4 separate regions of the Homo sapiens genome follow, and all the other regions are linked to region 2. The links come from fine-mapping of genetic effects on gene expression. A gene starts in region 2. Each other region holds a variant in brackets. All regions are shown on one strand. Distances are between the middles of the regions.

What was found.
Region 1: its variant is fine-mapped to the expression of TGFBI in whole blood (INTERVAL, PIP above 0.99).
Region 3: its variant is fine-mapped to the expression of TGFBI in skeletal muscle (GTEx, PIP above 0.99).
Region 4: its variant is fine-mapped to the expression of TGFBI in whole blood (INTERVAL, PIP above 0.99).

What each region holds. Positions count from the first base shown.
Region 1 is chr5:136,060,368-136,065,953 of GRCh38, forward strand. It overlaps TGFBI (transforming growth factor beta induced), which reads left to right. Exons shown (of 17, transcript NM_000358.3): 14 at 467-569; 15 at 1,133-1,212; 16 at 2,296-2,320; 17 at 2,819-3,451. The coding sequence ends at 2,859. Among named protein-coding and RNA genes, the nearest start is that of TGFBI, 34 kb to the left of the region's middle. RefSeq lists a silencer at 2,311-2,410. The variant T/C (reference allele first, on the strand shown) is at 2,814.
Region 2 is chr5:136,026,409-136,032,078 of GRCh38, forward strand. TGFBI (transforming growth factor beta induced) reads left to right here and starts at 2,580. Exons shown (of 17, transcript NM_000358.3): 1 at 2,580-2,781. The coding sequence starts at 2,648. RefSeq lists an enhancer at 4,797-4,866.
Region 3 is chr5:136,003,717-136,009,386 of GRCh38, forward strand. No RefSeq gene overlaps it. Among named protein-coding and RNA genes, the nearest start is that of TGFBI, 22 kb to the right of the region's middle. The variant G/A (reference allele first, on the strand shown) is at 2,682.
Region 4 is chr5:135,996,039-136,001,708 of GRCh38, forward strand. No RefSeq gene overlaps it. Among named protein-coding and RNA genes, the nearest start is that of TGFBI, 30 kb to the right of the region's middle. RefSeq lists an enhancer at 5,328-5,670. The variant G/A (reference allele first, on the strand shown) is at 3,120.

The DNA of each region.
Region 1 (5,586 bases), 34 kb after region 2:
TTTCATTCACCAGAGTATCCCCAGTCTAACACAGGACTTGGCATATGAAAAGTGTTCAGTAGGCCGGGTGCAGTGGCTCATGCCTGTAATCCCAGCACTTTGGGAGGCCAAAGTGGGCGGATCATCTGAGGTCAGGAGTTCAAGTCCAGCCTGGCCAACGTGGTGAAACCACATCTCTACTAAAAATACAAAATTAGCTGGGCGTGGTGGCACATGCCTGTAATCACAGCTACTCTGGAGGCTGAGGCAGGAGAATCACTTGAACCCAGGAGGCGGAGGTTGCAGTGAGTCGAGATCATGCCACTGCACTCCAGCCTGGGCGACAAGATTGAAACTCCATCTCAAAAACAAAGAACAAGGAAAAAAACGAAAACTGTTCAGTAAACACTTGCTGAATGAATAAAATAAATATATAAATGTATAAATAAATGCTCTACTTTCAACCACTACTCTGTTTTTCTTTTAGAAAAACAATGTGGTGAGTGTCAACAAGGAGCCTGTTGCCGAGCCTGACATCATGGCCACAAATGGCGTGGTCCATGTCATCACCAATGTTCTGCAGCCTCCAGGTAAGTGTCGCATCCCCACTGACTCTGCAGCCAGTCCTTTTCTTCATGTGGCAGTTGGTGGAGAGAAGAAAAACTGTTCTAAACAATGATGAGAATAACATGTAATTGTGATAGTTAAACTGTGCCTATGTGACTGATTGCAGAGTGAATTGGGAGCTGTTGGTTTTGAATGCACCACACTAAGGAATGTGAGGACACATTGCTCTTTGCGGAGTTGCCCAGCTATATTAGCTCCCCTCGGACACAGCCCAGTTTTCTGTATTCGCGTGGATGCTGTCCGCGCGATTCCCAGCACTCCTCTTACAGCATCTCACCTCAGTGTATGTTCCTTGCCTCCAGTGCAGTTGAACCTCAGTCCTGCCTCTCCTCATGTGTGCATTCACCTTTCTTGGTGCTCTCTCCCCATGGGCCAAGTTCTACCATGAGTTATGAAACATTATGGAGAAAACATGTCTTTGGAAATGTGAGCCAGAAAGCCCACCAGTGCCCCTCAGTCACGGTTGTTATGAATGACATGCTAATGGTTTCACTCTGGTCAAACCTGCCTTTTCTTTCCTCTTCAGCCAACAGACCTCAGGAAAGAGGGGATGAACTTGCAGACTCTGCGCTTGAGATCTTCAAACAAGCATCAGCGTTTTCCAGGGTAAGATGCCTGCTAGGTTTGCGCCTAGCCTGAGCAGCCTCAGGTCCTCTGTTTGGGCCATAGAGGAGCCTCTCCAGCCCCTGTCTTCCTTGGCTGCTCCCCAGGGCTCTCTTAAAACTTCTCCCCACTCCCACTGAGGCATCCTCAGCCCCAGCCTGTGTCAAATTCAGAGTAAAGAACCAAGGCAACTCCCTGGCTTTCATGGGCCAAAGCGCAGGCTTTCACACCGAGGCCTCTGAGCCTCAGATCATGGGGAAGTCACTGCTGGAGAGAACAGACATAGCTCTGGAAGCCATCTGCCCAAGAGGGCAGCCCATCCCAAGTTCATCTTACAGTGGCCAGGCCTGCCCTGAGCCGGGGCCTCTGGGTCACTCTTCTGCTGTCCATGGCATTGCCCATCCTGGGTGAGGCTGGGGCTCTCCTGGGCACTGTATGTATTCTGGATACAGGGATACTGGGCTCGCTATGTGTGTGGAGCCATCCCTTCCTTGCCCCAGCCCCACCTCCCTCTCAAACCCTCTCTGGCTCTTTCTGAGCTTCCTTTCCTGCTCCCCAGCTTGCCCAGTGCTCAGTGCCCCACTTGGCTCTTTTGCTACTTCGGGTCAGGTGGAGCCTCTTGGGAATGTGAAGTGCCTTACAGAAAGATTGCACTTCAAGAGGAGAGGCTGCAGGGAGCCATCCTAAACCCAGAGGCCTGGAGCTTACTGTGTCACTTTACTTTTGTACACAGGGGTCTCCTTAGTGCCCTCGAGAAGGATTCTTGGCCCTGAGCTTCTACTCCTGAGGCCACCTCTGTGCAGCCCCAGCTCCCTCAACTCTAGGCTGTAGTCTCAGTGGGAAAGCCTGGCTTGGGGGTCTCCTAGGAATGTCCACCTGAAGGCACACTTGATAGGGGCTTGCACAACTTATGTCTGCCAAGGCCACCTGAGGAACTCCCTGGTGCCTATAAGTTCCACCTTCCCCTTCCTCTTCCTCGCCCCAGCATTTTTTCTGAGTAGGGGTGGCAATGGGCAAAGCCATTGTCATAAGCAGTTGCAGGTATAACTTTCACTAGAAAACCTGACACCTTGTGTTTTCTTTCAGGCTTCCCAGAGGTCTGTGCGACTAGGTGAGTCTGGTCTGGGTTTGAAGTCATTGCAGACCTGTTTAGGCCTTACCCCCAAGCAAGCCCAAGCCTGCCATCTGCTGTATATAGATAAGAACATCATGGTGCAGTAAAAGAAGCCTGGCCTTTGGAGTCAGAACAGCAGGGTGACTTGGGGTCAGACCCAGAGCACCCCATTTCCTTCTCTGTAAGATGAGGATAATAAGAGTAACAACCTTTTAGGGTTAAGGTGAGTTTTCAGCTTAGGAAGTCTGGGAATATTGCAAAGGGCTTGGCAGGAACCCATGGTGAGGATCTAGTTCCAAGTTGATAGGTACAGAAAACCAGAACATCGGGCCTTGAGTAAAGAGTGAAGTTTCACAAACCACAAAGCACCTGCTATGTGCAGGAGAGCATGGCAGAAGGAGGCTGCTTGGCCCTGGTCCTTGAGATTCTGACAGTGTCCTAGACAGACATGGGGAGATCTGCACCTATTTGACGTTACCAACTTCTCTTT[T/C]TCAGCCCCTGTCTATCAAAAGTTATTAGAGAGGATGAAGCATTAGCTTGAAGCACTACAGGAGGAATGCACCACGGCAGCTCTCCGCCAATTTCTCTCAGATTTCCACAGAGACTGTTTGAATGTTTTCAAAACCAAGTATCACACTTTAATGTACATGGGCCGCACCATAATGAGATGTGAGCCTTGTGCATGTGGGGGAGGAGGGAGAGAGATGTACTTTTTAAATCATGTTCCCCCTAAACATGGCTGTTAACCCACTGCATGCAGAAACTTGGATGTCACTGCCTGACATTCACTTCCAGAGAGGACCTATCCCAAATGTGGAATTGACTGCCTATGCCAAGTCCCTGGAAAAGGAGCTTCAGTATTGTGGGGCTCATAAAACATGAATCAAGCAATCCAGCCTCATGGGAAGTCCTGGCACAGTTTTTGTAAAGCCCTTGCACAGCTGGAGAAATGGCATCATTATAAGCTATGAGTTGAAATGTTCTGTCAAATGTGTCTCACATCTACACGTGGCTTGGAGGCTTTTATGGGGCCCTGTCCAGGTAGAAAAGAAATGGTATGTAGAGCTTAGATTTCCCTATTGTGACAGAGCCATGGTGTGTTTGTAATAATAAAACCAAAGAAACATACGTCCTGTGTGCATGGTACAGTGTGCTGACCTGAGGCCGTCATGCTCCTCCACACCTCAATTCTGCTCTGGAGAAGCTCAGAAAGGAGCCCCGAGGGATGGTTTTGGGGAGATTCCAGCAGCCAGCCCTCAGACAGCCAGACAGCTCATGGGGGTTTGAGCCTGTCTTTGCCAAACAGGTTTTTATTTCACCCTCCTCCGGTCCTGGGGTTTCAAGTTTTCAGTGTTGCCTTCACCCCGCACTTTATTCCTCTTATTACTTGGAAGTACCTTCCCTCCAGCATGGTGATCCCCTGCCTGTGTGCTGGACTTTTGAGTCCTCAGCACCAACCTGTGAAGTGGTTGCCAGCATAATCCCATTATGCAGATGAGGAGACCAAGGCCCAGGGAAGGGAGAACCACCAGCAGCACGTAAAATAGCTGAGCTGGGACTGGAACTCACACCTCCTGACTCTCAGTGACCACCACTGACAACAGCATAAGTCCAGGTTTTCCAGGCCCATCCCCTCTGTGCCAACCCACATTCAGATTCCTTCCCCGGCTCCCGTAATCTCTGGCATCTAGAATATCCTCAGGACTCTGAGAGGTGATATCATGTGGTTGTGGTGCCATTGCCCCCTACCTGTGTGGCCTGGGGCCAGTCATGTGACCTCCCAGGGTCTCCTCTTCTGTAATAGGGAGATGACCGTCACATCTACTTCATGGGTCCATCGTGAGGATGAAATGAGATGATCTATATAAAATGCTTGGTACAACATTAGGTGGCCTTATTTTTATCCTGCCGTCTGGGACTGCTCAGGATCAATGCGCCAGAGAGCCTTTATTTGTGTCTTTCCCACAGGTGGGCTGGCCCACTTTCCTAGAGAATGGGACAGACCTCCTTCCCACCCACACCCATCTCTGCCAAGGCTGATTCACTCCAGCAGGCGGAGCTCATTTCACTTCATGGAACCAATGACCCAAAGATATATCCCCAGCACTACTGCTGGTCAGTCCACTGCTGCTGGGAATACAGCAATGGTAGTGGCAGACAGAGGCCCTCTCTTAAATAGCTTCCAGTCTGAGGAAAGAGAGATATGACATCAATCCATTAAAATCATTCATCCATTGGTTCCACAAATATTTGTTGAGGGCTACCTATGTGCACCCCCATGTTAGACCCTGGGGAATAGACATGTCATTCTCATGAGGCTTCTCTACTGATGGGGGGGAAGAGAATTGTCAACCAGATAATGGCACTACAGCCTGTGTGTTCTTAGTGACTCTGAGGATAGCACTGTGGTTCTGTGACAGATAATGAAGGATTTGGAAGCAGGAATGCCCAGGAGCTCCCAGAAGTGGGAAGAGATGAGAGGAATGGAAGGAACTTACCTGAAGGTGAAGGCATCAGGCTAGGGGACCAAGGGAGAAGGTGTCCTGAGAGGTAAGGCTTAACCTTGGGTGTGAATTCAGTTCCCGTCACTCTCCCATAGCTCTGTCCTGCTGTTCCCACCTCCCCTGCAGCCATGCGGGCTTGGGCGGCTAGTGAGGGCCTTGCTCATGCTGGGTATCCTATGCTATGCTTCACTTTGAGCACCTAAAATACACACACTGCACTTTACCAAGATGACCTCGGAAACCAAAGAGGTGATCAGCATAAGTTTTAAAGACCCTTAAATTTAAAGTAAAAATCACTACAGGATCCATTATAAATGCCAAACACTAAGATGTGTGTTTCCAGTTCTCCCCTTCATTTGTCCCTGCCACTCCCTGCCCTGACTTTGCCCCACCCCCTAGTAATGTGGGCTCCACTCTATGCTCCAAACTCTCCCTGGAGAGAAATCCTCCCTGTGGTTGAGGACAAGGCGCAGCCTTCCCCTCCCACCAAAGAAGGTCAGATTCCCTTTTTTGGTTCCTAACCATCCATACCCCTTCTTTTCTCATGAAGACTCGGGCTAAGCATTCATTAGGGCTGCCATCTGGAGGATGGACCCTTAGAGCTGAGGGGCCAGCACTGTGTGTTTCCAGGGGTGGGTGATTTTGGGGAGGGAGGTGTGCCTCACCCCATCAGAAGGCCAGAGGGTAGCCCAAGCTAGAAGGAGGTTGCCCAGGCCTTGCCTGAGCCCTGACCACTGAGCCCCAACCAAGGAAATGGAA
Region 2 (5,670 bases):
AATGCATATTTATTGGCCATTTTACTTGAATTGTATCATGTAATCTAGTTTAGAGTCCTGTGAGGTAGGTTTTATTATCCTCTCTATGAGGTTGAATAACTTGCCCAAGACCACACAGCTAGGAAGTAGAAAGACTGGTATTTGAACCCATCTTCTCCTTTTCTTCTCCTTCCTCCTCCTCCTCTCTTCCAACACCTGCTCCCAAGGAAGCTCATCCAGTGCATGACTTTAGCTACCACCTGCTCGTAGTGGTGACTCAAATCTGCATCTCCAATCCTCATACCTATCCTGAGCTCAAGACCTTTGAATATAGCTCCCTCCTGTCCATCCCTCCTGGAAATGCAGGTGGCTTGTTCACACATAATGTGAACACAAATGGAGCACTCTCCTCACACACCCAAATGTGCACCTTCACCAGCGTGCCCAGCACAGGCATCCCTTCCTGCCAGCTATGAGCCTCGAGGTTAGCTCTACTCCCCCTCCCTAACCCTGCATGCCCAAGGGGTTTCCAAGTCTAATCAATGCTACCACTAAAATCTCCCATACACCTGTTCCCTCCTCTCCACTAGCTTGATCACTCCCCATGCAGGCCCTCAGTTGCTTTATGCTCTCAGTAGGCCCTCCTCCAGTGCCCACACTCTCTCCCTTCTCCTTCCCACCTTCTTTCTACCAGAGTTCTAACCTCTCCAAGCCCCGCTTGTCTTTTTCTTTCCCTGGCTGCCATCCTAACTCGCCCCTTCCCTTCTCAGACAAGCTTCTACATGCTACTCATCTCTCCATCAAACCACCATATTCGGGCTTTGGCCATCTGCTCTCCACAGCCAAGTCCCCAGTGGCCTCTCTGCTTCTGACACAGTGAAAGCCATTCAGATCTGTCTTGTTGGCAGCATTCCTCACTTTGAGCAGCGCCCTCCTACTAGGATACCCCTCCTTGACTACAACCCCACATTCTCTACTTCCTGGGCTCTTCTGTCACTGGAGGATGACTCCCAGGTGTGAATCTTCATCCCGCGTCCCTCACTCAAGCCCCCGATCCTCATATCCAGCTTTATCCTCATGGGATGCTTCACCAGGATGAGTCATAAGCACCTCAGACTCAGGGTGTCCCAAACCACTCATCTACCTGGCAAGCCTGCACTCTGCATGTGCCTCATTCTGAACATGGCACCATCACCTGCTGCAATGTCCAGACCACAAACACCCTACAATATCCTTGACTCTCCTTTCTCCCCTTCTCCCTGTATACAGACTCCAAATTCTATTGAGACTATTACCTCCTACACCCCTCACATTTGCCCAGCCTTCCCCATCTCTGCCTCTACCACCATAGTTCAAGCTCTCCCATGGTCCCTTCCTGGTTACCTGTTCTTCTTGCCTCCTTAAGCCTCTCATGACACTGGCCATGTCACTTGCCTCCACCCATCACCCGCTAGGCTCTTAGCTGGAGTCTGGGCCCTGCTACCTTCCTCCCCTTCTTCCCTACCCTTGACTCCACCTCCCTGTGCTTCAGCCAACCAGATAACTTGAGTTTCGTGAATGCATGCCTCAGTTTACCTGATTAACTCATTTTCATCTTTCAGGCCTCAGAGCAGGTATCACCCTGTCAGGGCCAGGTGCCTCTTCTTAGCTCCCAAAGCCCCAGCTACTCTTCATGGAACATCATTGGCTTGGGCTACGGATCTTCCCAAATTGGAGCTTTTTCACAAAGGGCTTAGGTCTCACTCATTCTATTAATCCATCTGTGTCTCCCCAGGGCTAGCAGTGCCAAGTAACTGACAGGTGATTAATAGATGCTTGGGTAAGTATCACCTCTTTACCATGTGACAATTTGTTTACCTGCCTTGAGCTCCTCCAGGGCAGGACTCTTGCCTTTGCAGAATCTATCTGGCAGGTACTGTTGCAGAGATGTTTACTGAAGAAGGGAATGAATTAGTACCAAGGTGAGGACCCCACCCTTCCCCACGGGCTCCAAAAGCAGCTTAGAGCCCAACAAAACCTGCCCCACATTTTTGGCGTTTCTGTGGATCACACGATTTACTCATCTGTCTTTCAATGAGCATGACAGGTGGGGTGGGGGTGGAGGGATTAGAGATTGAGGAGCTGGGGAGGGTGGTCAGCTCCTGGGGTGCAGAAACAAGTCTGATGGGCCATGGTGTTCTGGGAATCAGCACTGCCTCCCCTCACCCCTCCCTGCAGTGTTTTGTAGCCTCAAGATCAGTGAGGGAATCTTCGGGCCCCCAGCATGCAGGACCGAAGCCCCCGAGACAGCTGTCCCTCAGTCCCAAGGTCCCCATTTGGAAGCAGCCACAGGAGGCCTAAGGGACCTATACCCTTGGTTTGAGGAAGACTGTGGCGAGGGAGAGAGGGAGGGAGGGCTGGCAGTGAGGGCAAGGGCTGGGAAAACTGAGCACGGGCACAGTGCGGGAGCGGGTGGGTGCCCAGGGCAGCCAGGGGCGCACGGGTTGGGAGGCGCCAGGCGGCCCGCCCTCCTTGCACGGGCCGGCCCAGCTTCCCCGCCCCTGGCGTCCGCTCCCTCCCGCTCGCAGCTTACTTAACCTGGCCCGGGCGGCGGAGGCGCTCTCACTTCCCTGGAGCCGCCCGCTTGCCCGTCGGTCGCTAGCTCGCTCGGTGCGCGTCGTCCCGCTCCATGGCGCTCTTCGTGCGGCTGCTGGCTCTCGCCCTGGCTCTGGCCCTGGGCCCCGCCGCGACCCTGGCGGGTCCCGCCAAGTCGCCCTACCAGCTGGTGCTGCAGCACAGCAGGCTCCGGGGCCGCCAGCACGGGTAAGCCGAGCCGCCTGGCCAGGGGCTGCGGAAGGTCAGGTAGTCGGGGCTCGGAGCGCAAGCCGCTGGGGGCATTGAACTGGGCTGGGGGCGCAGGGGACAAAGCCCGAACTAAAAACCTTGCAGCATGGAGCGCTCGGACACCAGCCCTGCACGCGGTGGAAGGAGAGAGGGAGGGAGGTGGAGGACCATGGAGGGAAAGCGGGAGGCCGCCGCTTTGTAGAAGGGAGTGGGGAAGTGGACCAGAGACTTTCGACGCAGGCCAAGAGCCTGAGACGGACAGCGCTTTCAGCTTCTCCTCCCAGCCACTGCAGAAAGGGGGAAATGGCAACTCTTTGGCCATAATCACCGTGGGAGGGTGCCAAGGGCAAAGCCCACCCAGCAGTACACCTATTCCAACCCAGCCAGGCCCCCGGCCAGCGACTCCAGACAAGAACCTGGGCCACACACGGTGGCAGCATCTAAGGTGCCCCAGGCTCCTGTGCTCCTGGCCAGGCCCTGCACTCAGACACTGCTGGCACCCGACACTGCTCTCTGGGTACAGCAAGGGCAATGTGGCACTTCTTGTCCTGCCCGATGAAGAGCAGGAGAATGCACTGGGCCCTCACACACACTGTTCAAATGGGGAAACTGAGTCCTGAGTGGTTCCACTTTCCCACAGTCCTGAAGTGTGCACTGGAGCCAGGATTGGAGTCTGTCTTAAAGTAATAGCTGGGTTTGTAAATGTAGGACACTATCATTGCAGGAATTCCTTTGAGACCCTGAAGATGTGTTGGCTTTAGGAGACAAACTCAAGCAGAAGGTCTGGTCTGATAGTGGCCCTAATACTGACCCAGGCAGAGGCAGGCAACATTTCTACCTCAAAAACCAGGCCATACCTGCGTCACAAATACCCAGGCTTTGCTGCAGCTTCCAGCCTACCTGGTTGCACCAACTTCTTTTTCATAACTAGGTAAAACTATATATGAGTAGAATCTTGTAGTGACTCCTCAGAGGAAGCCTAAATACCATCGGGGTCTGGCGTTCACACCCACAAGCAATGCCCAAACCTCCAAGAGACTGGGCAGATCTGTGCTCAAATCAAAACTCATTGTTGGGGGTGATAGAGTTGACTTCACAGGCCCTGAAAGTCTTGGCTCCTTGCACTAGGAGTGCTCTGGGTACGGGTACAGGCTGCCCCTTGTAGGGCATAGTTGCTCTTGTTTCCTCTACTTGTGGCTTTATGGTCTAGGCCTTTCAGGAGTTTGGGGCTCTGGCGGAGAGGGCCTGCTGGGAGCACATCTGGCCACCCTGCAGAGTGAAATCAAACCAGGCCTGGCTGCAACCTCAACACCCTCCTGGAAAGAGGAGAATACTGGGGATATCCTGGGGTCTTTCTGGAAGTGGGAGAATCAGCTTTGACTTGGGCAGTGTGCAGAATAGAGTGAGGGGGGATGTCAGAAAGATGAGAGGGATATGAGGCCTCAACATCAAAATGCAAGCACCTGGCATTTTTATTATCTCTGCCCACCTCTCCGTTGGTCTCTCTGCCTTTCCTGCCAATGAATTGTGTTATGTTTGGGTGCCTCAATTTGCCTAGGAGGGTTCTATTTCTTCTGTATCTTCGCCACTAAGTCAGGAGAAGATCCTTATAGCATGCCCTGCAACAGTGTCACCTGTAAGGGCATCTCTCTGCACAGCCACAGTGAAGGATCCTCAAAGGTATTGAGGGCTTTCCATCAAGAGCCATCTTTACAGCAAACCTCTTTCCCTTCAGAGCCCAGAAGAGTGCTGACCAGCTGGAAAACAGGGTTTTTTTCTTAAATGCAGATGCTCTTGATTATGAGTTCCAGATATTAGATCAACTTCCCCACCATACCCCTGCAGGCAAAGCCTCTTAATTAGCTTCCTGCAGCACAGCTGGAAAGGCCTATTGTAATCTGTGATGGGCAGAGTAATCTAAGAAGTCACAGGAGCACCCCTGTCCCAGTAGAATCTGGATGCGCAGGCACATGAACCATGGCAAAATGGTTGCAGGCACAGTTGTATTTACTCTGATCTAACTGTCCCTGTTAATGCCACAGGGCTGCCTGGCCTGGCACACAGGGCTGTGGCGCCTTGTGCAAATGGATAACGTTGTTCTAGCTCCAGCCTTTCATTCAAAGTGAAAACTGTTAGAAAGGGAAGGAAAACTTTGCTATTTTAAGGAATTGTAGCGTGCTGCCTGATATGAAGGAAGAAATAACAGCTGTGCCTTGCTTGTGCGCAGCACTCGATTGCCGCTTTTGCTTTCGACCTCACCACAACACAGTGAGATCTACTGTTCATGTTCCCATTTTACAGGAGGTGAAACTGCAGCTTAGTGAGGTAGAGAGTGACTTAGTTCAGACACAGAATGCTGTTGGGAGAGTAATAACTATGATATGGTCTCTTGACTCCCAGCTATATCTGTGTTGCTATAGGGAAGGGGAAAAATAATACTGAAAGAGAAGTAAAAATACAATCACACTTCCAAACATCAACCACCAAAAACTGAACTGAATTTCCTGAAGCACTTGGTTTTCAAATCTAAGCTGAACATCAATGCTGTTATTCTTGAGGCCCAGAAGCAACTTGCTCATTTCAATTAAGCTTCAGCATGAACTTCCTATGTACACAGCCCACCCACACTCCCCGATGTGAGAAGGAGAGGGTCACAGCCGCCCCCAGCCTCTGCTGCTGCCACAAGGACAGCAGCAGTGGAAACATTCAGCAAAGGAATGTTGGAGCCACATCCACAAGAGACTCACTGAAGATTCGCCAAACGCCTACGGAAAGTGGCAGGGAATTCATTGACAGTAATTGTTTCCTGCTTGATCAGATTGAAGAGCTTCTGGGATTCTGTAACAATAAATAGGACCGGGGGCTGGA
Region 3 (5,670 bases), 23 kb before region 2:
AATTAATTTCTTGGTCTTCTTATAAAATTTCAGAAGCCAAGGACAGCTTAGGGAAATAGCAAAGGGCTAAGCATAAAATCTCAGAATTCTCTGATAACACAGTCCAACTGGACTTTTGAATTTGGGATCTATGCTCCATAAAAGAAGAGCTGCATATCCAGAATTCCCTTTTTGTTGTTGTTGTTTTTTGTTTTCGTTTTTGTTTTTTTGAGACAGAGTCTCGCTCTGTTGCCCAGGCTGGAGCACAGTGGCGTGATCTCGGCTCACTGCAAGCTCTGCCTCCCGGGTTCACGCCATTCTCCTGCCTCAGCGTCCCAAGTAGCTGGGACTACAGGTGCCCGCCACCAGGCCAGGCTAATTTTTTTTTGTATTTTTAGTAGAGATGGGGTTTCACGGTGTTAGCCAGGATGGTCTCGATCTTGTGACCTGGTGATCCACCTGCCTCAGCCTCCCAAAGTGCTGGGATTACAGGCGTGAGCCACTGCGCCCGGCCTGTGTTCTTCAAGTTTATTACCTCAGTCACTAGTATAAGTCTATTTCAAGTCCTTGAATGTCTAAGAATGTCTGTCTGTTGCCTTCATAAGGCTGCAAAATTACTGGATCCTAACTTTCTTCCTTCAAAACTTTCTAAAGCCTGCTCTATACAGGGTGGCAAAGGACAAGTCTGAAGCCAACCAATTTTGTAAACTTTGAAAGAGGTATTTTTTTTCCCTCAATGCTCATGACATGAAAACAAATTAGTCTTATAATTCAAATATGTTGCTAGAATGTGTTTTAGCCCCTGTGACACAGTGAGGCCTCTCTGTCAGGGATCCCCTAGGCCACAGGTCCATCGCTGTTTGGAAACCCACTAAAATGACTCACAAAACTCAGCTTAAAGTGTACTCAGCTTAAAGTGTACTCATAGCCAAGATTTATTACAGCAGTGTTGTAAGGATATATGAGTGGCTCATGAAGGGAAAAGGCACAGGCAGTCTGGAGGAATTCATGTGCAGGTTTCCTCATGCTCTCTCTCACCCATTAGGAGTCACGCACAGCTTACTCTTCACCAGTGAGAAAAATGAAACAACGTATGCATGATGTATCTGTCTAGGGAAGCCCATCAGAGACCCATTACACAAGTTTTTTTTACTGGGGTCTGATCATGATCATGTAGGTCCTTCTGTCTAGCATGAACTAAAATTCCAAGAGAGCAGGTGTTTAGTAGCAGGCCTTTCTAAGTATTGCAGTCTTCAGGCCTGCTCGGTGAACTCTTTTCTAGACAGCCCCCTTTAAATTTATTTTTTTTAGAATGCTATGGGCCATTTCGATTTGCATACTAAGGGCTGTTTTCTCTAATGATATCTTTGATTATTGCTTTCTTCCCACTTGAGTGGGTTTCTTTCTTCAGAAGTTCTGTAATTCTTGGATATAGCAGGACAGAGAAGGAGGACCGAATCATCCTGTCCTTCCTCATCATTTTCATCATTTTGCTCTTCTCCTTTGATCTCATTCTTGCCCTCCACATTACTGATTCACTTTTCTATGGTGTCAGCTCTGCTCCTTGTTGACTTAATTTTTTTTTTCAGATATTGCATTAAAAACATTTTTAATTGCAAACCTGAGTACTTTTTCAGAAGTTTCATGATTTTCTCCCCCCAGTCCCCACCCCTCCACCCCTCCTCAAATAGTGAAAGGTCTATCTAGACCCACTGATTTATAAAAGAGAAGTTTTAGGGGTTTGTACTTGTCACTGCCCTTGACATCTTGGGTGTCTATCAAAAGCCTTGTTAAATAAACAGTTGAGCAGCCGATTGTGGTGTGCAGCTTCTAGTGCTGTTCTTAGTGACCACACGTTTTTGTTTACTGAACGTCTGTTAAACTGAAATCCATCTTCTTCTACCCCACCATGTAGCTCCTTGACATGATACAGAAATGGAATGTGTAGAAAGGGCAGTGCCCTGGCATGCCTCCCTCCAACGTTGCCATCGTGGGCTGTGGCTGCAGTGCCGTGCCCATGGGACTCTCCTCCTGGCTACTGTGGAACCCATAGTTCCTCCCTGTGCATCTCCAAGGCCATGAGGAGGGGGTCCCGTGCAGCCAGGGGGCCCCCCGGGAAAGCACCCGAGTTTTGCATGGCACAGCCCTGTGTTCCTGGTTATAGGGGCAGGTTCCCTGGCACACAGTGTGGGTGGCCCTGAAATGAGATTTTCAATCCAGCTTCTTGCCTGGCCTTAGGTTGAATCTTGATCTTAACTCACAGAATAACGTTTTTACTTTTTTCAACATCATCTTGGATATTTTCAGGAGAAGTTGGGAGCAGCTTGGTAGGAGGCTATTAACCAAGAATCATTTAAAAACTAAAGTCTTGAGGAAAATTCTAACTAAGGGGCCACGGGGGATCACAAAGAATAAAATGCTATAAGCAACCGAGGGAGTAGTCTCATTAGGGCGCTAAGACAGACACACGTATCATAGAAAATAACTAACAATACCAGACGGTGTATCACGAGGGTGCCCTGGGAGCGTGGTGGGCCGGGAATCAGGAACACCGGCTCCCCTTTCGTGACTCCAATACGGACTTGCTGTGTAACCTCAGATGAGGCAGAGCTCCCTTCTGGAACTCTCTTGCCTTGTTTACAAATGAGGGGATTGGTCTAGTTTCCAGTGTGCCTCCAGCTCCAACATTCATCATCTTTCTC[G/A]GCTGCTGTGATTCAGTGGGAACACTGCAGAAATGAGGGACTGGCTGACCTTGAGCTGAATGGTCAGCTCCAGGGGCCAAAGGAACAGAAACAGCAGATACTTCCCAGTGTCCCGCCTTTGTGCCAGGGAGAATCTCGTGTGCCCCCAGAGGGCTGCTGTCTCTTATGCCCCATTCCCACTTCTCCAGCTTGTCTCTGTTCGATTTCCTCAGAGGAGCTGGCCCATACATTGTATAACTTTTCACTTTACAAACATTTGATCTACTCAAGTCATCTTGCCTCTGTGTATGTGTGCACCTAATATAGCAGAAAATGGATTTCAGGCTTCCTTTTAAAAGAAGTCAATTATCCCTCTTATGACTGATTCATAATTTAGCCATAAGGAGCTGGACGTTACTTCATTCTGACAATGAGCCATGATCCCTTTGTTAGGCCAAGTTTAGACAAGGAATCTAAGGCACAAGTGAGTAACTCCTGATGCATCAGGGTGTGCAGAGACTCCTTGAGTTCCAGAGACCTTGAGGCCTAGTCTGGAGCCTCCAAGTGGATTTTTTTCTCTTCTGTTCAGAATTCCACATTCTCTACTGTCTGACATGTAGAGGTGAGTCAGCCTCATGGTAAAGAGCAGAGTGGCACCCTGCTGTTTGGCACGGCTGGTCTTAGGTGTGAACCCCCTTGGGGCAATAAAAGGAAGACCTGGGACCTCAGGGACTCCTGTACTCTGTCCCTCCACACATGGGCACGGCTGGCTGCCTGTCGTCCCGAGTTCTCTAAAGGCAGGAGCCCCCCGATACCCTCTACTCTGTCCCAAGACATCTCCTTGCCGCAACCCAGGACAGGAGGGGCAGTTAGCTAACTTAGCAGATTATAAAATAGCGCCAAGACCAGATATTCTACTTGATGCAAAATGCACTTGAGAGGCGTAAATAATTTAATTGGCTGTTGTCACGCAAACAGGATAATCACAAGTTCTCCCAAGTACTGGTTGTTCCAGCTCCCTCTCCTTTCAGGACAAATTGCTCACACTTATCCCACTCACATATACCAATACTTTAGGGAGAAAGAAGGGCAGGGAGAACTGCTTTCATAATTCCCAACTGTGAGGTGTTGCAAGAGGGGAACGTGTACAGGTCCCAAAGGATCTTTCTCTGTGGCTTTCTGGGACTTCACTGCCTGAACTCTTGTACCCAACAAAAAGATCACATTCTTCTTTGTTTCCCCAGTACCAGTGCTAGTGCACAGCCTGACCATAGCATTTTCCACATTGTCTGGCATTTGCCTAGTGTCTATCTTTCCCTGGGTCTGAACTTCCAAAGGTTAAGAACCAGGGCTCATTATCATCTTGGACAGAACCTAAGCAGAGTGGATGCTCAGCAGTGATTTGTTGAACCAAATAAATAAGTCAGCCCAAGGCTTTGCTAAAGAGCTGAAAGGATGATATTCCTGAGAAGACAAGTCAACAAACGTAGCCTGTGTGCATTCAGTTTACATAATTGATAAATATTTATTGAGCATTTACTGTGTCAGGCATTCGTCTAGATACTGGGGATATAGCAGTGAACAACACCAGTGAGATTCCTACCCACAAGAGTTTAAATGTAGGGGGAGACAGACAATAAACACCTAACAAAACAAATCAAATAGTAGCAGTCATTAAGAGACTTAAGATAATAGAGAGTGATCGGGATCAGGAAAGACCTTTCTGTCTGCTTTAAAGTGAGATCTGAATAATGAAAAGGGGAGAGAGCACTGCAGATGGAGGAGATAGCTAGTGCAAAGGCCCAGAGGTGGAACTAAACTTTCTTGTTAAAGAAACAGGAATCCAGAGTGGCTGAAGAGCACAGAGTGGGAGTGGAGAGTGGGGACTGGGGAGTGGAGGGCTGAAGTGTAGGCTAGGGCCAGATCACACGGGTTACTCTGACTGCATTGGGGAACCACTAAGGTACTTTGAGCTGGGCAGAGGAGGGTGGGACAAATCTGTTCATGGAGGCATTTTGAAAAGACCTTTTGGTAAAACCAGGGTCCCATCCTTCATGTACAGGATGTACCTAATACATCCACTCTTGTCGTTTTCCAGGAGGCAGAGGAACCTCGCCTGCTTCACCATCTGGTGCATGTTTGGACACATGGGGAGAGGTACTTCCTTGGCTGTGGGGCAGGGAGGAACAGAGTGGCTCCCATGAGGATAGAAGACACAAATTTGGTCTTGAAAGCGTTGAATTGTTCTTCATTGGCCAGGGCTCTTTTAGTTGCAAGTGACAGAGGCATAATACAAACTAGCTAAAGTCAGAAAAAGAATTTGTTGGCTATCAAAACTGGTCGTTCCCAGGGCACAACTGGCATGGAGGGCTCAGTGTTGGCAGGATTGTCTCTGTCACTTGGTCTTTCCCACTCTGCTTCTCTGTTTCTGTAGATGTTATTCTCTTTTAGGAGGGCTTCCTCCCAAATATCTTTAGACACAGGAAGTGGCATCTCTGTCCTGGGCTCCATGCCTCTGGGGACCCTGTGCTTTGGGGTAACTTCCTTGAAATTTTCTAAGCCCCTTGGATGCCTGGGACCAGCTGGAGCCATCATTGACAGCGAGGCAGGGTGCCCCAAACCTAGACCAGGACTCATATGGGCCCTGGTCCTCATGTCTCCCCAGTGGGACATCTGACTCTCTTTCACCTATGCTGGGTCAACCAGATATTCTGAGGAATTTTAGGAATCACATCCATGGGATTATCGAGGGACCCTGGGGCCAGGCCCCAGTTCCAGAAAGATGGTTTGGTGAATAGATCACTCTCATGAGGCAGTGTATTTCTTTCAGAGGATCCCATGAGATTGGGCCTCAAGAATGGTGCTGACAAGCTGATTTGGAATCCTCTTACTTCCATCTGATCTGAGTTCAGAGCTCTAGGCTATACTCGCCCTTGGGCTTCTACTGAGTGTGAAGGCCCAAGTGCCAGTCAATCCTGTTCATTCATGTTCTGATTATGGGGCACCAGAG
Region 4 (5,670 bases), 30 kb before region 2:
ATGATGGAGTACCTGCTGATAAGGTTTAACAAGTGGGGAGGGAGAGAAGCTAATTAAGAGGTTCTAGTCATCTCCCCAGAGAGGAGTGGACAACCCCTGACTTAGGGCCAGAAGACTGCAGAGTCTAGACGGCTGGGTTATGGAGTGCTGGAGTCAGGGCAGTGCGCACAAGTGTTGGGCTGGGTGACTCCAGTGGAAAGTAGTGCTGATAATCATGCTTGGAATTCAGGGGGACGGAGGGCACTTGGGGTTTGGTCAAGAGGAGGGTCCACCCTGCAGCCATTGTACACACAACCCCCATGCCCCCATTAAGACTGCAGAGCTCTCCTCCCCTTGCCTTTCCTTGTGAGCACCCTCTCTGCCCCTTTCAGCCTCTGCTGCTGCTCATGCCTCGCCACTGAGCCCCACAGCAGCCAGCTGAGCTTTCCTGTTCTCTTCCCTCCTTTCCTGTTTCATTTCCGAGGCTCTTCCAAGCCCCCGGGCTTTTCACACAAACACTTTCTTTTCCTACCTCAGAACTTGGTTTTTGCCTCTGCACAGTCAGGGTTGCTAGCTGCTCGGGTATCATTTCTTTTCTACCAAAGAAGGGAATGTTTTCTTTTTATGGGGCTCTCTCCAGGTCTGGAGCCCTGCTGGCTTCTCCACAGCTTTAGGTAACCCACAAAATCCTCAGCATTCTGGCTGCTGCCCTGGCTGTGCCTGTCTCTCCGGGCAGTGTCTTGAGTGACAGTGGGAGGAATGGGTCATGCCTGACTAATCAAAAGCCACAGCAGGCAGCATTGCCTGGACTATGGTCCTCTGACACTTCATCCAGATGATGATGCCTTCATATTTGTTAGAAACTTCATGCCTTCTTCCCAGGACCCGGCTTCCCTAGAAGTTAATCAGGCTGGTGGCCAGTGGAGTGGCTGTGGATTCAGAGCAAAGCAGTGTGGCTGGTCCCAAAAGCTCTTTCTCTGGGCCATGGTGAGACCGCTGAAAGAGCTCCACCCCACCACACAGCATGGGGAGAGCTCACAGCCAGACTATCCTTGAACCCCCCAATCTAGGCCTTTCCGCCTGAATACATGGGTCCTTTTTGCCATCCTCTCTGTTCTTTTTCTGGGTTTTTCTGGCCAAGCAATCTCTCTTTAAGTCGGTTAACTTACCTTTTGAGGCATATCTTTGCTCTCAGCCTGGGAGCTCATCTGTCTCTGGGAGATGGCTCTACCTAAACAGAAGTCTGTAGATGTTTTCTTGGGCTCACCCTTCTCAAATCATGTTGAGAAATCATGAGACATGAGAAATCATGTCTCAAAGCATTTCCAACAAAGCTTTAGCTGACTCAGAATATACAAAGATTTTTTTCCAAGTCAACTTTATTGAGGCATAATTTATGTGTAATAAAATGTATATATTTTAAGTATACAATCTGATGAGTTGTGACAAACGTGTACATCCACATAGCCGCCACGACAATCAAGACACAGAACATCTCCATCACCCCAGAATGCAACGTTTGCCATTATCCCCCCAACCCCAGCCATGAGCAAACACCCACCTGCTTCCTGTCAATATAGATGAGTTTTGCTTTGTCTAGATTTTTATGTAAATTATCATACAGTAGATATCATTTATATCTTACACTCAGCCTACGATTTTGAGATTCACCCATGTTATAGCATGTTATGGATAATTTGTTCTTTTTTTTAGCTGAGCAGTATCTCATTGTATGGAAATAAGATAATTTGTTTCTCTCTTCACTCAGTGATAGACATTTGGGCTGTTTCCAGTTTGGTGTATTACAAGTACAAATGCCTTTTCTGATTCCTGATGTAGCACCTGGAGTAAACACGTCTGTTGCCCTTAGAGAGCTTAAAGTCTTGGCAAAAAGAGACAATTTAAATGATTTAATCCTCGTGGAATTTTATTATTGGATATGATTGGGATATAATCAACTGCAGGGAGGCTTGTAGTTGTGCTGGATGCTATGGAACCGGCAGAGAATGGAAGAGTACAGGGGGCCGGGGTCACTTCAGGGCATTTTATTTTATTGGGGAATGGCATGTGAAAGCTCCATCAAATGACGCTGGATGGAGCCCTGCCCTGGGAAGCAGGCAGAGGAAGACCACAGGGGGAGCAATCCTGGCAGGTGAGAGGCTGCAAAGATGCCGCCAGACCTGGAATAGAGAGTTTGTGTTCAGCAAGTGGGACAGAAATCACGAAAAGGCCTTGAATACTGCTCAAATTGCAGGACCTGCCACTGCCATGATGAGTGCCACTCTGAAGCCCTAAAAGATGACAAGGGAGAGTAGGAGAAGCAAGCCCAGAGGAGAAAGAAAGTGGAGAATGGTCCCCAGAGGAAGGGAGGCAAACAGGGAGCAACAGCTACGCAGGTGACTGCAATGTAAGAAGCCATCCAAGAATAGACAGTGTTTCAAAATGCTCAGGAAAAAGCAAGGTGCGGTCTTCTGGATGTGGCGGCAGAAAAACCCCAAGAGAAAGACATCATCAACATAAAAGCCTGGAAAAAATAGGGATCATAAAGATGCCAGTGTGACTGACAAACAAATTAGAGGTGTTTGTCTCTCGTACTCTCCCTTATCATCTTTTAGGGCTTCAGAGTGGCACTTCTCACTGGGGCCATCTGCAAGCTGTTCTTCGGCTCAGGAGACCATGGCCCTGCTACACAGTCTCCCATTTTCACATACTTGTTTTTATTGCTGGGTAACAAATTACCTTCAACTTAGTGGCTTAAAACAATACAGTGGCTTTTTTTGTTTAATCTCACAGTTTCCATGGGTCAGGAGTCTGGACATAGAGGAGATGGGTTCTCAGCTCACAATCTCATCAGGCTGAAATCAAAGTGTTAACCAGGGCTATGTTTTCATTTGGAGCTCAGGGTTCCCGGTAATCAGAATTCAGTTCCTGCAGTTGTAGGGCTGAGGTCCCATTTTCTAGCCAATCTAGGGGCTGCGCTCAGGTCCTAGAGGGCCGTGCAGGTCCCCTCCACGGGAAGTTCACAGCATGGCTGTTTACTTTCCTTCAGGCCAGCAGGAGAGTGCCTGAATTACATCTGCAAAGTCCCTTTTGCCATACAAAGTAACATGTCACTGGAGTGACAGCCAGTCTTATTTACG[G/A]GTCCCACTTACACTCAAAGGGAGGAGATGATGCCTGCACAGCAGGGACCAGGAATCTTAGGACCCATCTTAGAATTCTGCGCATTGCACATGGTTTTTCCTTTGACTTCCTATTTCTCCATCTAGAAAGGCAGGGGCTGTGGGCTAGGTCCTCTCAGAGATTCTGCTCTGCACCAATACTCTGAGTCTGTGTTCTCCTTCATTTTATGATTAGAGTCCATTTGGAAGCACTATGCCCAATCATCTCATCCAAAATGTGCCTTGAAGATAGTGATGGGGACAGGGGCAGAGATGACTGAGAACCACTGAAGGGGTCGCAGGCCAAGGGAGGGGCAGCTGAGTAACGGGCAGGGAGGCCTGCTCCTGGAATGGATGTTTGGTGAGTCATTAGGGCTGTTCACATACATTCTGTTTCTTCTTCTGAGCAGCGGAAGTGGGATTTTACTTCCCCATCCCCTTTGCAATTCAGTATAGGCATGTGCCTGACTGTGGCTGGTGAAATCTGAGCAGGGATGATGTCTATCATTCTGAGCTGAAGTTTTAAGAGCCCGTGTGTGTGTGTGTGTGTGTGTGTGTGTGTGAGTGTGTGTGTTGTCTCAACTCCCTTGTCCTCTGCTATAGTGACTAGCAGTTTGAGACGGTGGCTGCTTCATTATCCTGGGTCCCTGAAGGGATGCAGAACAGAACTCCAGCCAACCCGAAATGGACTTGTGGCACAGATGACAGAAATAAATCTTTGTTGTTTAAAGCCCCTAAGATTTAGGATTGTTTGTTACTGCAGCATCACCTAGCCTATCCTGGCTGGTACAAAAAGGACAGTATCACAGTTATTCTGGCTGCCACCTTCTCTTTTTCTCCGGAAACTCTTATCTGAGCCAGGTCTTTGATGCAGTGGCTTCTCAAAGATATAGCCATAGGGTTCAATCTTGATGAAAAGTGACTGTGTTGCTCTATAGTCATGTATCTTCCGTCATTCAAACTGAGCTACTCACCTGCTTGCTGAGAGAAGATGCTCTCCCACACCCTGGGCCCTCAGCCCTCATGATAAATAAATAATTTTTGTTTGAGAACAAATAAGAGTAATTAGCACATTCAGGGAAAACTGCCAGTCAAACCTGACTTGGACATGCTTTGATGTAGTTTACTTGTCATCTTGTTCTGAAAAATCTCAATTACCTGCAACCTGCCATTCCCGCTCTTTTCTTTTCCTACACCTCTAATTTGTTTGTCAGTCACACAGGCATCTTTATGATCCCTATTTTTTCCAGGCTTTTATGTTGATGATGTCTTTCTCTTGGGGTCTTTTCTGCCACCACATCCAGAAGACTGCACCTTGCTTTTTCCTGAGCATTTTGAAACTCTGTCCGTTCTTGGATGCTTCTCACATTGCAGTCACCTGTGTAACTGTTGCTCCCTGTTTGCCTCCCTTCCTCTGGGGACCATTCTCCACTTTCTTTCTTCTCTGGGCTTGCTTCTCCTACTCTCCCTTATCATCTTTTAGGGCTTCAGAGTGGCACTTCTCACTGGGGCCATCTGCAAGCTGTTCTTTGGCTCAGGAGACCATTGCCCCTGCTCCACAGTCTCCCGATGAGGGAGGATGCTGGCAGAGGTTGGCTGCCACTCAATTACCCAGACTCATTCCAAAGACCACGCAAATTTTTGTCCAGAGGGATGGTGACTGCCAGGGGGACCGATAGAGGGTACACAGGCATAGATCACCCTCAAGCAGAGACTACAACTGGTTAGGACTATGAGAAGAAATTATGCACAAGAGCGTGTCATAGTGTAAATTATGCCATGGTTTAAAGAGGAAATAAGACACAGAGAGAATCTGGCAATTATAATAATAATAATAACTAACAGTTAATGAGCACTTTCCATGACCCAAGCACAGCGTAGACACTTCCTATGGATTATCTCCTGCAGTCTTCATATTTCCTGTTGGGTAACACTAGTCTCATGCCCACAATTCGGATGAGGAAGCAGGGGCTCAGAAAGTTAAAGCAGTTCACCTAAGGTACACAGCAAGTAAGCAGAGAACTGGGATAGGGTCCCAGACAGCTGGCTTCAAAGTCCATGCTTCTACCCAGGCAAAGGGAAGAAAGAACTACACTGGCCAGAGGAGCTACCCCCTAGTTGCCAGTGTCCATGATGATTCCCTTGTGAGGAGGCCCCCCAGTCCAGATCCTTCCCATCCCACCTACCTGGAACTCGCTTCCAGCTGATTGGCTACAGGGCTCTGCCACATGATGCAAACTGGAAAAGGCCCTGTTTGAACTCTTCCCCTGCAAGAGTTCAGGCCCACAGGTTCTGGTGTGGGCTTGCTCAGCTGGAGGTAGCCTGAGGTGAGCTGGAGTTTACAGCCCTGGCTGCAGGCATCCTGCCGGGTTGGACTGCCTTGCTTTTCAGAGTAGGGGGAATTGAATTATTATTGCATCAACTCCTCCGACACTCTGAGAACTATGGCCTCCCTCATTCCTTCCTCTGTGGCTTTTCTCTGCCCATAAATGAAAAGCAGATTGCCTCACTGGTGCTGGATGCTCAGAGCAGA